Regions from separate parts of the Homo sapiens genome. Here region 2 is linked to region 1. A link means that fine-mapping ties the variant in region 1 to the expression of a gene that starts in the linked region. Tissue or cell type: whole blood. Region 1 holds a variant in brackets; the other region holds the start of a gene. All regions are shown on one strand. Distances are from middle to middle.

Region 1 (8,107 bases):
AGGTTGCAATGAGCCAAGATTGTGCCACTGCACTCCAGCCTGGGCAACAAGAGTGAAACTCCATCTCAAAAAAATAATAATAAAAGAAAATAAAAATAAAAATGATCTGATGTTAGTCTTGGGAAGTTGAAGTTGTCTCTTTTTTTTTTTTTTTTGAGACGGAGTCTTGCTCTGTCAGCCAGGCTGGAATGCAGTGGTGCAATCTCGGCTCACTGCACTCCGCCTCCTGGGTTCGTGCCATTCTCCTGCCTCAGCCTCCTGAGTAGCTGGGACTACAGGCACCCACCACCACGTCCAGCTAATTTTTTTGTATTTTTAGTAGAGACGGGGTTTCACTGTGTTAGCCAGGATGGTCTCGATCTTCTGACCTCATGATCCACCTGCCTCGGCCTCCCAAAGTGCTGGAATTACAGGCCTGAGCCACCGCGCCTGGCCTCATCTTTTGAGGAATGCATATAGGCTTGCCATTTGTGTTGAGCCCAGTAGTTCAGGAGACTTATTTCACCATGCACTCATGCTTCTATTTGTTTCCTACCTCTGCATTTATGACAGTATGGCAATGACTGCTTCTCCAGGAATTTCCTGGTTTTGCTTGTTTTTAGGTCACTGCTTCAGTCATCATCAGCAATGCAGAAATACAAGCAAAAGTGGACCATATTCTATAGTTAGTCGTAACATATTCATGGCTAGGTGTGTACACACGTGTATATATCACACACACAGGAAATAGGTAACAATACAAGGTTCTAGTTGATGAAGTGTTGAACAAATGACATATATGATAGGGGCTATTGGTATTCTGAGAAGATGGGGCGTAATCAAAGGGAATTTAAAAGGTTATTGCATCATAGTATAGAAAGATAATTCAGATATGAGATATTATTACATTATTTCTGTTATAAAGAAAGCATACGCTGTATGGTAAACTTATATTTAAAAGTCTGTTCCTAAAAACCAGTGTGCCAAGGCCGATGCCAGAAATGAGCTATATTGTTTAGGAGTAATTTATGTCAGGCAACAGATGCATTCCTGAAAAGTCAGGTTAAAGTGCTATTTGCTGAATTAAAATGATTTCCATAACATCTGCAATGTTAGAATAATAGCTCCGGGGCTCTTCTGTTAATCAAATGCGAACTTAAGAAAAATGCCCATCTATTTTCATCATTAGAAAAGAATGAAAATAAAGAACCACATAAACTTGCCTATTTCAACTGTCCCTGATCTTTAGCTAAAACCAACTGGTCAACTTGTTCAGTAGGTATTTTCCTTTCTCAAACCAGGGAATTTTCCTCACAATTTTTCTCTTTCTCCTACATTGTCACATTTTTCGCTCCAGTGGGTTTTTCCCATCAGCACTCAAATATGTGACTATTTCTTTCATCTTAGAAAAAACAAAACAAACCAAAAAACCCATCTCTAGAGACCATTTCCCTATTGCTGTCACCCCCATTCTCTCCTTTTCTTTTTAATAGAATCAAATTGGGCTTTTACCATACATGTTCTCTGCAATTTTCCTCCACCCATTCTCTGCTACGTTCTCTCCATCAGGGTTTTGCTGACGCCACCAGAACTTCCATGATCACTTCATGGGTTGACCAGCATGTTGCAAATGGTCAATTCTCTTTCATCATCTGACTGGACTTACAAGCAGCGTTAGACCCTCTGGTCCCCAGGATCTTCCTTAGTATACTCTGTGACTTGACTTCCAGGATCCGCATGTTCCTGGCTTTCCTCTTTCCTCACTAGCCAGTCCTTGGATTCTTGCTGGTTTTTCTGGAGGTACCCATTTAAAACATTCAATTACTGCCACGCTTAGTGTTTGGACCATCCTCTTCTATCTATCCACTTTGTCTGTGTCATCTCATTCAGTTTCAGAGCTTTAAATACCATCTACTCACTGATATTTACTAACTTAAGCCTTCAGCTATAACTTCAGACCCTGAGCTTCAGACTCTCTAGCTTTCTGCTCAGATGCCTGCTCCTACATACCTCAAACCAAACAAGCAAAAGGCTGAGCTTCTAATATTTCCCTTTAAACCTGTTTTTCCCACAGTCTTAACATTGAAGCCAATGGAACTGGTTTCCTTCTATCTGCTCATCTTTGATTCCTCTCCTTGTCTCTTATCTTAAATTTTATCTGTAAGAAAATCCTATAGCTCTACTTTCACCATTTATCCTGGATGTAACTCGTTGTCATCAGTTCTACTATGATGCTCCAAGCCACCATGATCACTTCTTTATCCAAGAAGCAACAGCTTCCTAAGTGATGTTCTTTATTCCTCTTCCCCGTTCTCCAACTATCTTTAGCACAGCAGCCAAAGGAATCCACTTTGAACAACTCAGGTCAAGTTGCCTCTCTCTTCAGACTCCAAAATCTGGCCGGGTTCGGTGGCTTACACCTGTAATCCTAGTGCTTTGGGAGGTTGAGGCAGGAGGGCCACTTGAGGCCAGGAGTTTGAGACCAGCTTGGGCAACATAGTAAGACTCCACTCACACTCCCAGCTACTTGGGAGGCTGAGACAGAAGGAGCGCTTGAACCTATGAGTTCAACATTTTAGTGAGCTATGATCGTGCCACTGCACTCCAGCCTGGGCAACAGAGTTTTCTGTTCATTCAAAGTAAAACAGTTTTCTCTGAGATAGGGTTTTGCTCCATCCCCCATGCTGGAGCATAGTGATGTGATCCTAGCTCACTGCAGCCTCTCTCCTGGGCTCAAAGATCCTCCCACCTCAGTCTCTGGAACAGCTAAGAATACAAGTCCATGCTACCACACCTGGAATTATTTTATTTTATTTTATTTTTTGAGACAGAGTCTCGCTCTGTTGCCAGGCTGGAGTGCAGTGGCGCAATCTCGGCTCACTGGAACCTCCAACTCTCTGGTTCAATGATTCTCCTGCCTCAGCCTTCCAAGTAGTTGGGATAACAGGCATGCGCCACCACGCCCAGCTAATTTTTGTATTTTTAGCAGAGATGGGGTTTGATCATGTTGGCCAGGATGGTCTTGATCTCCTGACTTCGTGATCTGCCCGCCTTGGCCTCCCAAAGTGCTGGGATTACAGTTGTAAGCCACTGCGCCTGGCCGATAATTTTTAAATTTTTTTGTAGGGTCAAGATCTTGCTATGTTGCACAGGATGGTCTTGAACTTCTGGCCTCAAGCAAGGAATTTCTTTTCACTCAAAGTAAAAGCCAAATCCTTTGAAAGGCCCTGTAGGACCTGGGCCTCCTCCCCTTTCCTTCTCTGACTGCATCTCCTGCTGTGCTCCCTCCATCTCAGCCACACCAGTTTCTTCCTGTTCCTTCAACACATGAATCAGACTCCCCATCAGAGCCTTTGCACCTGTTTCCCCTGCATCTGGTGTTCCCCCTCCATCTGGAATGTTCTTCCCCC[A/G]GATATCAAAGTGGCTCACTCCCTCACATTCTTGTCTGTACTCAAATGTCACATCCTCAGTGAGGCCTTCTTTGGCCGTTCTCACTAAAATTGCAAATTTCAGTCCAAGGGTTTTTTTTTTTACTTTTTAGCCCCTTTTATGCTTTTCTTTTTCATGATAGGAAAACTTATTTAATAGCAGAGAACAATGGCTTGACCCAACAGAATCACGTGTCATTGGCATAATATTAGCTTTCAGAAATGGCAGATAGCAAGAGAGACAGATTTTTGGTCACAGTCCTTTAAGAAACATTAAGTTATAGACTGCTAGGAATCGTGGCCTAGTTATGTCGCATAGATGTAAGCTAAACTCTTCTCAGCTCCCTTCTTCAAATGAAGCCAAAGGAACAGGAAGAATATGTTGGACAGGTGGTTGGATGAATAGATGGAGCTTCCACTCTCAAAGGCATATACATTTGAGATACATTAATTCTAGTCTTTACTCTGAAATGAGAATGTGGGATTGAGGCTGAAACTTCAACAGAATTCATGGTCTTATGAGTTCTTGAGGGTCTCTGCTCTCCTTCCCCAACTCTAAAACACTCTATTGAAAACTTCACAATTCATGAAGGATTTTTTAAATGTCTTTATTTTTCTTTAAAGTACCTATTACTCAACAGTATTCTCTGTAAAGGCAGAGATTTTAGGCTTCTTGTTTCTAACATTAAATCATTTATTCATTTACATTTTTTTTAAATCCCTCAGTGAGCTGAACATTAGGATTCCCAAGACAAATAAGACATAATCCCTGCCTGCAAAATATTTGTCTACTGTGAAAGATAAACAACACAGAGAAACAGAATCTCAATCCCCACACTTTTGCTAGTTTTAGGTCTTTACCACACATAAATTTTCTAAAATATAGATTAATTTTTTTTTGATACAGGGCCTTGCTCTGTTACCCAGGCTGGTGTGCAGTGATGCAATCTTGGCTCACTGCAACCGCCGCCTCCCGGGTTCAAGTGATTCTCCTGCCTCAGTCTCCCTAGTAGCTGGGATTACAGGCATGCACCACGATGCCCGGCTAATTTTTGTATTTTTTTTTAGTAGAGATGGGGTTTTATCATGTTGGCCAGGCTGGTCTCAAACTTCTGACCCCAAGAGATCTGCCCACCTCAGCCTCCCAAAGTGCTGGGATTACAGGTGAGCCACTGTACCTGGCCTGATTAATATATTTTATGAATAAAATGACATATGATTTTTATTTGAATCTTTTTGTGAGAAATTCTTTTGTAAAGTATAATCAGGGCCAGATGCAGTGGCTCATGCCTGTAATCCCATCACTTTGAGAAGCTGAAGCAAGAAGATTGCTTGAGGCCAGGAGTTTGAGACCAACCTGGGCAACATAGCAAGATCTTGTCTCTACAAAAAATAAATAAATAAATAAATATTAGCCAGGTGTGGTGGCATGCACCTGTAGTCCTAGCTGCTCTGGAGGCTGGGGTGGGAGGCCCTTTAAGCCCAAGAGAGAGGCTGCAGTGAGCTAGGATCACATCATTGTACTCCAGCATGGGGGACAGAGCAAGACCCTCTCAAACAAATAAATACATGCATAAGTAAATGAATAAAATCATTCTCTAGTTCAGTCATAGACTACTATACCTGGATGAGCCCTTAGATCTTGTCTCATCTAGTTACCTTACAGAGCTGAAGAACTTAAAGCCCAGGAATCATGTCTTAATAACAATAATGATATCTATTATTTATTGGATGTTTGTTGTCTAGCAGACACTGTGCTAAGCACTTTGCATGCATTATTGCATGTAATATTTACAACTTCATGGGTTGGGTACTATTATTATCCCACTTTCCTAGATGAAGTAAACTGAGGCGCATGGAGTTCTTTGCTCAAGGTCACCCATCGATGTAAGTGGTGGAGCTCTGTCTTATGTATAAAGCCCAGGCTCTCAGCAAAGGGATATGCTGCACTTACCCATAGTGTTCCATAAATAAGTGACAGATTGGGATCTCAAACCCACTTTCTGATTCCCAGTCCAGTACTTTTTTTTCCACAACAAAATACTGTTTTTGTTTCCAAAGTGTTTTCAATGGTGGTGGTGTTTTCTGGTCTATTGACATGCCTGCATGATGACAGCTACTCTGGTAGTTCCTCTGTGGCCATCCTTTCTCATTCATTTTTCAGTGATTTAGGAATAACAGGAAAAATTGAGATGGAGTCACATCTTTATAACAATGTCAATACCCTCTTTCGTTTATGTGCCATAAAACTAACATTCTGCAGGCGAGCAAGACATCTCAAAATGGTTCAATTACACCAGAGCAGTGAAGTAGCTCTACCACGATGTATATTACACACAACTGTTTACACATAAACTCATACTGTAATCAAAGAACAGTTTACCATAGCCAGAGAGAATGATCATAAAACTTTTTCCTTTCCTTACATCACTCAAAAAATCGTTTACTCTTCTTAATGACAGAACAATCTGTGTATTTTTGCAATCGCAGTAAGCAGCTGTAGAAAGCATTGTGATAACATCAATAGAAGCACAGTATGGTAATGTAAAATTAATGAGCGAGATGGCAATCTTTTTTTTTAGGCAAATCATGCTTTGTGATACAGCACGCCCTCTCAATTAGTCTGTTTTCAGGGGCAAGAGAATGTGGGTATTGTGGCAAAGTGCACATTTAAAGATGTGGGAGTCACTAAGGAAGATGGTTGCAATTGACAGTCAATGTACCATGGCTGCACACAGGGTAAAAAAAAGAGCCACACGCTAACAAAATATACATTCACTCTTTTGCATTTATTTGTTGATTCTCTCATAGCGATCAACAACATGGTTGAAACTTAACTGACTTGTATTTAACAAAATAAATAAAGTAAGTAACTAGGTAAACATATATATCAATGATAACTGTTATGAATACCTCCTAAGTTTTTCTCTTTTCCAAAGTGGTGTATATTCAATGACTAGTAAGGCCAGCAAAATGCATAAAATCTAGACTGGCTTCCGATAGTAATTAACACTTTCATCACCAAAGCTGAGATTCAGACTTCCCTGCCTTGTGTGGGGATGCAAATCTCCTAATAAATACTGAACTGGAGTCTTAAGGAGAAGGGGTATAGAGTGCATTCAGACTCACTGCTCCACTGCAGTTGAACTGCAGGACATCCAAGGAGACTGGGAGGAAGCTTTGCGAAACAAACTTTTGAGAAACTGTGTGATATGCTTTGGCTGTGTCCCCACCCAAATTTCATCTTGAATTGTAGCTCCCATAATTATCACGTGTCATGGGAGGGACCTGGTGGGAGGTAATTGAATCATGGGGGCGGGTCTTTCCCATGCTCTTCTCATGATAGTAAATAATCCTCACAAGATCTGATGGTTTCATAAAGGGGAGTTCCTTTGCACATGTTCCCTTGCTTGCCACCATGTAAGACGTCTCTTTGCTCTTCCTCATCTTCTGCCATGATTGTGAGGCCTCCCCAGCCATGTGGAACTGTGAGTCCCTTAAACCTCTTTCCTTTATAAATTACCCAGTCTCGGGTATGTCTTTATCAGCAGCATGAGAACAGACTAATACACTGTACAAGGTGTGTGTTGCCTTAAAATAATTTAGGAGGTATGATCTAATTGGAGCACATAAAGAAGGTGATGTGAGATTCTGTTCAGATTTGGTTCAAAGAAAACACTGCTCTGTAGGGGTGTCTTAATGGCCGCTTAATTTTCTTCTCTATATTATAGTTTCTTTTAATGCACTTGTGGACCAACAGAGAACGATGTTGAACATTGTTGCAAATGTTGTCAATAGCTGTAGAATGTTTATTTTTTTTTTAAATTTTTATATACCAATAGTAGGAAATGGAAACAAAAGTGTGTATGTATAAATACAATTAACAATTATTTGGAATCTTAATGCCCAGAGGAAAGCACTCTTGCTATTTTGGTATATAAATCTCCTACCAGTTTCACAAGGCATTTAAATTCATTACAATGAAGGGTTTCCTTCCTTCTTTTACATATTCAGTCCTTGCTAGCACTGATGGAAATGCTGACCCAAACAAGTGACACATTACAGAACAAAAGGAGGTGTTTGGTAAGGCAGGGGAAAATAAAATAGTGACTCTTTTAGTATAGTAGAGTTATGCTAAAAGATAATTATCTTTTAGCAGATCCACTTTGTAATAGAAGTCTTTTTTTTTTCTTGTAAATGTCTCACCCCACGGCTTGACTGGGAAAGAGAAAATCCAAGTGGAAAATGGAATCTGGGGAATGGTGAAGAGTTGAGTGATCTGGGGAGTAAGGGGCATGTGAGAGAAGAGGAGGAGTCCTGGCTTGTGTTCTTATTCTTTGCCTCTTGGAATTCTCCGTAAAAACTTGGATGTTGGGAGCAAGCCCCCCAAAATGTGGCCATAAACTGGCCCCAAGACTGGCCATAAACAAAATCTCTGCAGCACTGTAACATGTCCGTAAACGGCCCTAACGGCCCTAACGCCCAAGCTGGAAGGTTGTGGGTTTACGGGAATGAGGGCAACGAACACCTGGCCTGCCCAGGGCAGAAAACTGCTTAAAGGCATTCTTAAGCCACAAACAAAAGCATGAGCGATCTGTGTCTTAAGGGCATGTTCCTGCTGCAATTAATTCGGCCCATCCCTTTGTTTCCCTTAAGGGATACTTTTAGTTAATTTAATATCTATAGAAACAATGCTAACG
Region 2 (8,107 bases), 620 kb after region 1:
TTGATGTTTTCAAAAAACTTGACTAGATATGATGCAGTTTGAACTACCAACCCGAATCTCCATATTGCATGAATCTGAAGTACTTTGAGGGAGTTAGTGGCTCAAATGGCCTTCTGGGAGCAATCGATTTCATCTATTTCTGACAAAGGGATGAGAGCTTGATGAAAGGAATCGAGCAGTTACCATCCAGTCTACTCTTACTGATGGGCCACGGTTCCAATCCGACTCAGGGAGCCCCAGCTGAAGGCCTTATTTCTGCAGCACCTCCTAAGTGGGAGTCCAGGAAACTGGGCTTTGCCCACTCACAGCCTCTGCAGGGCGTTCTGGGGGTGCGGTAGAGGACTCTTCCCTTCCCTGGAACTGGGTCCTACCAAGTCCAGGGATTTGTTCTATCAGGAAGAATAATGTGTTCAAGAGACCAAAATAAAATCAACCCGGGAACACTGCCAAATTCTTCCTCTGCCTATCACTTATTCTCGTATAGAGCCGGCCTGTCTCCACGCTGGGGAATTGCAAAAATCTAAAACTGACCCCTCTCACCACTTAGTGGAATCCAACAGCAAAGGAAAAAGGTTGTTAGCAAGGACAATTTGCTCTGTACCAACCCACTGGCCGGCAATTCTCAATCAGTGCGGTAGGGCTCCATTACCCAGCACTGTGAGTGGAAACTAAGGAGTCTAGAAAAACCTTAGATCAGCTAAGAGCAGAGAAATCAGAGGCAGAACTTAAATATGACATTTCCTTCTGAGTCCATAGTGCATCCCTTATTCACTGGTTGGAGAAAGCTGGCAAAAGCGCTCAGCTGGAGGCAGGCGTTTTCTGTGCGTTGAGGCGCCGGAGGAGCCATTCCCTTCGGGAAAGACAAGGTCGGGGTGGGGGCAGTCGCTCCGGAGTGCACGATCCGGTGGCTTTATTTGCTGGCCTGGCGGGTCTAGGCTGGAAAATGCACACTCAGCAGGGAAAGGGGAAGAGAGATTGGCGGCAGTTTTCTAAAAACAACACAGCTCAAGTCTCCCTCGTGTGCCCCCTCGCTCACCCCGCCGAGGCTCAGAGCTATCCAAACGGGCGCTCCGGAGCGAGCGCGGAGGTCGGGTCCCCCCAGGACGCAGGCGGGCCTCCGAGACTCCAGGCCGCCCCGGCCGCCGCTCCCTCCCGGTTCCCCTTCCCTGTCAACCTGCCAGGTCCTGAGAGGCGCCTCTCCCTCCGAGCCTGGACCGAGGTCGCTCCGGGTCACCCTAAATCTGATGATGCCGCTCGCCCGGCGCAGCCGGGGGCTGGGACTGGCGGGGCTGCACCTGGGGAGGCGGCGACCGCGCGCGGGTAGTAGCCGAGAGCCCAGGCTGCCTCTGCGGCGCTCACTCCCCCGGGGTCTGCGCTGGGCGCGGTCGGCGCCCCCGCCTCGCCTCCCGCCTGCCCGCCTGCCCGGGCGCAGGGCTGCCCATGGCTTCGACAGTGCTCCTTCCGCTCAACTTAGGCATTTAACTCCCAGCCCTTCGGTGCCCACTTCCCACCCCGCGCCTCCCAGGGGTCCGACAGCTGAGAAGAAGGAGGAAACTGGCAGAGGAAAGAGGCGCTCGGGGGGGCCGAGTTTCCAACTTGGCGACTGGGAATCCCGAGGCGCGTGGGGAGGAGAAGACAGGCTTGACCCGGGGCAAGAGAGTGGCGAGTGCGGGCTCCGTGGGTGCACCTCCCACTGGCCCGGGAACGGCCTGCACCCCGAGGGGCGCACGTCACTGCTCCCAGCCCGAGTCGCGAGCGCGCAGTCCTGGCCTGGGGCCCGCGCGCCTTGGGCTTTCTCCCTGCCCGCCCCTTTTTCTTCCGCCAAAACCTTTGACCAGAGTCTCCTTGCCAGCATTCCTACCTCCCTTTGGCCAGCTATTTGTGCCAGGTAGGAATCAGGCTGTACTTTGGCTGTGTGTGTAGACGCCAATCCCCAGGAGGCGTGTGACCTTTTCACCTTACCCACAAACTCCCTGGGAGGTGCCCCGTGGGCACTGACCCTTCTCCGGGGCCTGATCGGTGACCGCAACCTGTTTCTTCCCAGAAATGTCCTTGCTTTTCGCATCTACAAACGCTTCCTGCAGCACTTCTCGGAAAACCCTCGGGGACGGGCCTGGGGGGCATCCAGCGGGCTGGGGGCACGAGCCGCTGTGGGAAGTGGGGGTGGCAGGAGCTCCAGGGCCGGCGTGCACGTTGTCTGTGGCCGGGAGCGGACACTGAGAGGGCGCAGCGAAGAGCACCCCTCCCCCGCCACTCTTTCCCTCCCTCGGGATGCACAGAGAAACGGGGGCCGCCCGACCCCTGATTTCCACACCCCTCCCTAGCACCTGGGCTCCCAGACAAGGTTGGGCGGGGTCGGGCGGCGATTGCCCCCCTGCTTGGAAGGCGCAGCACCTCCCACCCTCCGGTGTTCCCTCTGCCCCAGAGGAACGGGCACCAAATCTCGGGAAACAATGAAGCCTCCGCGGCGCGCAGAGGGCACCCAGCCGCGCGCCCTGATGCGGGCCAGGGAGGCCGCGTGGGGCTGCAGCCCGGCCTCGCCCGCCCAGGCGGTCTGTCTTCGCTTCACACCACAGCGACACTGCTGCCCCTCGCCCGGCTTCGCGGTGCGGCTCCCACTCCAGCCCGGCTTTCCCCTCCTCGCCCTCCAGCTCTGGGCAGGGGCGTCCAGGGGTGCCCCGCTGCTCCCCGCCACAGGTCTCAGGATGGCGCGATGAGGAGTGGCAGGGGGTGACCCTGCGTTCCTCGCCGCCGAGGGCGCGGGCCCCGGGATTTGAAGTTGCGAGAAGCAGCCGCCACCTCCCGGGCGCTCCGCACTGCGCGGCGGCGGGATCTGCGCCTGCAGGAGCTGCCCAGCTCTCCCTCTAGGGGTGCAGAGCGAGCACGCGAGGTGGGCTGGCCAGACCCTGCGGCTGGCACTGACCTCCGCGCCCCTTCCTCCGACGCCCGCACCCACGCGACCGGGGCGCAGACTCCCAGCGCCTTCCTTCCCGCGGAGATCCCTGCAGGGTCTCTGGGAAAGACAGACAGACGGACGGGGAGAGCACTCGGAGGGAAAGTTGTTCCTCCCAGTCTCCTGTCAGGCAATTACAGGCGAGCCCAAGCGGGGAGAGGGGCGGGAGGAAGCGAGGGAAGGGCTCCGGAGTGGGGGGAGGCCGCAGGAGGGGAGGCGGGGGTGCAGTTGGTGAAACTCCTCTGTCTCCCGCTCATCTTTTCATTGCTCGTTCCCCTCCTTCCCGCAGACACCCGGACCTCCCCTGGGCGCCAGCTCCGCGGCTCCAACGGGTCCAGAAACAAGCCGGATTTTTTTTTTTTCTTCCTGGAAATTGGCTTTGGTGTGTGTTGCCCTACCTCCCTCCTCCCCCTCCCACCCACAGCCCCCCCCCGGCCTTTTTTTTTTTTTTTTTTTTTTTTGAGACATGGCCCGGGCAGTGGCTCCTGGAAGAGGAACAAGTGTGGGAAAAGGGAGAGGAAGCCGGAGCTAAATGACAGGATGCAGGCGACTTGAGACACAAAAAGAGAAGCGTTCCTCTCGGATCCAGGCATTGCCTCGCTGCTTTCTTTTCTCCAAGACGGGCTGAGGATTGTACAGCTCTAGGCGGAGTTGGGGCTCTTCGGATCGCTTAGATTCTCCTCTTTGCTGCATTTCCCCCCACGTCCTCGTTCTCCCGCGTCTGCCTGCGGACCCGGAGAAGGGAGAATGGAGAGGGGGCTGCCGCTCCTCTGCGCCGTGCTCGCCCTCGTCCTCGCCCCGGCCGGCGCTTTTCGCAACGGTAAGTGACAGGCAGAGGCGCGGGTGACAGCGGCGCCCCGGCTCCCAGCTGCCCGCCCCGGACCGGGGCTCAGGCGGGGCTTCCCGGGATCAGCCGGGAACAACCGACTCCCGGGCGAAGGAAACTTTTATCTGGGAGGAGAGAAGAAGAAATGAGATCAGGCGGTTTAGAGCAGGAGGATTTCAGGTCTTTGGGCTCCCTCCTGACGTTGATCCTTGGGCTGTGGGGCTTTTCCTTACCTCTGTTACAAGACAGAGCTGTCTACCTTCCCAGATCAGCATGCCAATTATCTTAATAATGTTTCCTCCCAAAGGCAATTAGAAGAGACTCCCTTTCAAAAATCTGATGGCTGTTGAAAGTTAATGAACACTTTACCAGGAGATCTTACTTCCTGGTTCCTTTGCTGCTCCCCTAAGCCGTTTCCTCTGGTGGGTGACGGCCAGAGATATCGGTTTGTGGGTTGATGAAACTCCCTCCCCCGCCTTTGTACACCTTCCGTAATCTGTCTGGAGTATGACTGAAAGTTACATAGTATCAATACAGGAATCTGACATATACAGTGTAAGGCACCAGGATATCTGAAAATCCCTAAGCTAGTTGCAGCTTCCACTTAGCTTTTAAAATCACTCACTGTTAAGTAAATGAAAAACTATACTGGGGTCTAAACAGTACCATGTAACCTAAATAATGTGTTTTAAAATGGGATCTGGTTGTAGGCATGTTTGACTTCACACTGTAAAGTAAGTGCAGGCAAGGGTATGCAATTATCTTTACAGTAAGTCGTCAGCAATTGTTATTAACTAATGATCAAATATTTACTTTTGTCTGGCTTAGATTTCAATCACAGTAATTAGAAGAAAAGAACATCCACTACTTACTGTGGTATATTGTTTTAATAAGAGACCGCAAGTGGAGGGCCTCATACCAACAGGAATTTAAATCACATCTTTATGATGGAAGTTAATCTCTCTAATATGCTTTTTCAAGGTTTTGTGATTTTAGCAATGGATTTCCCTCAGCAGCTACCAAGCAGTATTTTAAGAGATGCTTAAAGCAAAACACATGCAAAAAAAAAAATTATGAACATGGAATTCAGCTTATTAATGAGCCCAAGTTGATGGCATTTTTCTATAATCTGGCAGGAAAGCAAGACACAAAAAATTATGAATGTAGAATTCAATTTATTAATGAACCTGAGCTGGTAGCATCTTTCTATACTCTGGCAGGGAATGAAATAGCATTCTCGTCCAACTGAAAGAGCTCAAATGGTTGGACTAGAAATTATAGTAACCCTGTCCTCCACAACTCTTGAGACTAAATCCATAGTGGGGGTGTTCACAAGATAGATTTGAAGCTCAATGCAAAGAGCTATCAGACTTTAGGTTGTGAACTACACAAATATATATGCAGTACACACACACACACACACACTTCTTAGTTTTCTTAGCAGAAATCTGGGGAATGCTGAAAATCTGGCTTTAGTTGTTGAGCTTTACCAGCAAAAGCCATGTCGCTATGCTTGAAGTGACCAGAGCCAGAAAATGCCTCTGTAACTCAGCAGACCTCTCAAAGCCATGTCCACCTCCTCTGAGTAACCAGTGTCTGCTAAATTAATTCATTAACCTTATTTAGGACTAATGGTCCAGAGTCATTAGAAACTGCTCTTTCTTAATCAACTGCTAGAGAGATTGAACAGAGCCAGGGAGTCTAGCAGTCCACATTATCTTATTACACTGTCACTTTCTCAGAAGTCACAGATTAAAGAGCTCTGGTGTGGTACCAAGTCCACCTAAATGTCTTCTGAAGTGACTCTGTCGAGTGACTAGAACCAGTGCTGTTTTATTTCACTCCTGTAACAGATGCCAGACACTACCATGATGTTTGTCCAGAGCTAGAGGAAACTTAATGAGACGAGGTCACTTTCCAAGTTTTCTGCACATTCAAAATAATGCAAGAGTCTCAGCAGAATCACATAACAGAGTCCAACATGATCATTAGCTGAGATTTTGAACTCCAGTTGCAACATCATTTCTTCCTGGCAAAGCTTACACTTTTACAAGCCAGTGCAAAGGAAACCAGCATAAGACTACCCCCAGTCTAAGGAACAAAGTCAGAAGCACCTAGCGATTGAGAAAAACAATATAACTTATATTGTCTTCTTTTTTTAATTTATGGGAAATGATTTCTGTAATGCATGTAGCTTTATGCATTTTTGATGTGCACTTCATCTTTCATTTCCATTTGACCTGGTTTTCCTGTAATAAAATTCTGTAGATTTATAAATTCATGCTGAGAGCAAAGAATGCCATTCTCTTTCCACAGGGAATCTATTAGATGCAGTGTTAAAATCTACATCTACCATTACTGAAAATTTGTGATTGATAGGCTTATATATTTCACTGTTTTCATACCGTTTCTCTTATATAGTTTATGCACCGAATTTTTATTGCTCAAAATTAAGCATCAATAAATGTGGCAGCATTTCAGGCTGAGGTGCTCCAGTATGAAATCCATCATAAAATGTGACAATGAGAATCTATGCTGAACAATATAGGCAGCCCAGAGACTGGTTTACTTGGTTTATTTGGCTTCACTTGAGCATTTTTGAAATGAAGGCTCAAAACTACTTAGCTCACCTTTCCCAGAATGTGAGAATGTGGGTTACCATATGTGATACCCAGACCTGTGTGGTGGGTTATTTTTCACCCAACATTTAGGTAATTAGAATTAATGCCATGTGGCTATTTACTTTTCCTTCTGCCCCGTTGCTTTGATCCGATCTCCAAGCTTGAACAACTTTACTTGGAGAAGTAAAGCAGAATTATTTCTGCTTCACCAAATATACTTTGTTCTCTGTTGATTTGGATCTCAAGAGCAGAGATAACTCAAAATCACTTAGATTTATGGGCAGATAAAACAACAACAACAAAAGGTTTGGCTTTAAGCCAATCAAAGACAATCCCCACTGATCAATGACATAGACCAGGCTTATCATCAAAAAACAACACAAGGGGTCGAACAGCATCTTTCAGTCACTTTCCACTTAGAACTTGCTACTTAATGTGATTACACTTCTTGGGGGATAATTAAGTCTAGCAGAAGCTCCCAGGGGACCATGTTAACATCAATTGAGGGGATTTAATGTTTTTAATGCTAGAAGACCTTTTCCTTAGGAAGAAACTTCGGGGCTGGGGGGAAGAGTCCTCTCAGATCTCAGTTGGCTTTCTGCCTGAGTCAACCTTCCTGAGATCAAAGAGTGTTTTTTCCTGGAGTGTTGCACTCAGAGCCACACGAAGGACTTACGGGGACCTTTTAGAGTTCCCCTTAAAAAGTTAAGGAATGTTTAATAACCAGTAATTTACATATAAAGCTAGATTACCTAACAGGTTGTCAGGAAAGATCTGCTAAAATCTTACTTTCATTGCAGATAAATGTGGCGATACTATAAAAATTGAAAGCCCCGGGTACCTTACATCTCCTGGTTATCCTCATTCTTATCACCCAAGTGAAAAATGCGAATGGCTGATTCAGGCTCCGGACCCATACCAGAGAATTATGATCAACTTCAACCCTCACTTCGATTTGGAGGACAGAGACTGCAAGTAAGTGGGAATGTTTTTGAACAGGGCACCACAGCACCATCTAGTGGTCACGCCTGTCTACGGGGGGGAAGTCGGTGTGTACAATGTAGATTATAAATGGATCCAGGAGGGATTCCAATCTCAGCCAGATTATATGTCAATGGTATGGAAATTGAAGTACGTTAAGTGATTTCTGAGTTCCCCAAACCAGGAAGATTATAGTTAAATGTGTAAGCTCTTATACTCCTTCCTGTTAGCACTTTTGGTTTGGGAACTCTTGTTAAGAAATGTATACAGTATGTATGTTTCTTTTTTCTTTCTTTTTTTTTTTTTCCTGGAGAGGGGAAGAACTAGAAACTCAAAAATCTCACTTGTATTTTTACGAAATACAGTGGATCACTAATATACATCGCATCCACAGATAGTGTGATTGGAGATCTCACTATTTGAGATATATTGAACTGTGGCACATCTTATGATTTAAGAACTGCATTCATCTTACTAAGTAAGTTTGACATGGAAAAAGCAAATTGAATAAAATAAGGCCTACAGGATAAGCCAGATGAGGGGTTTTGTAAATGGTGGATTACTGATTAAAATACTTTTATGGAAAATGCTAGAAAATAATTGTTAAGACACGATGAATACAATGGGAACTCAAATACACATCAGTGTTTCATCCACCTGCTTAGTCTTGCTATCTCTTTCTATTGTTAAGTTTCTAAACATCAACTTATGCCCAATTTCGTTATT

What was found. PIP is the estimated chance that this variant, and not a neighbour inherited with it, causes the effect.
Region 2: NRP1 starts here. The variant in region 1 is fine-mapped to the expression of NRP1 in whole blood (TOPMed, PIP above 0.99).

What each region holds. Positions count from the first base shown.
Region 1 is chr10:33,945,624-33,953,730 of GRCh38, reverse strand. No RefSeq gene overlaps it. Among named protein-coding and RNA genes, the nearest start is that of LINC02629, 46 kb to the right of the region's middle. The variant A/G (reference allele first, on the strand shown) is at 3,390.
Region 2 is chr10:33,329,976-33,338,082 of GRCh38, reverse strand. It overlaps NRP1 (neuropilin 1), which reads left to right and starts at 3,416. Exons shown (of 17, transcript NM_003873.7): 1 at 3,416-3,773; 2 at 7,201-7,375. The coding sequence starts at 3,701.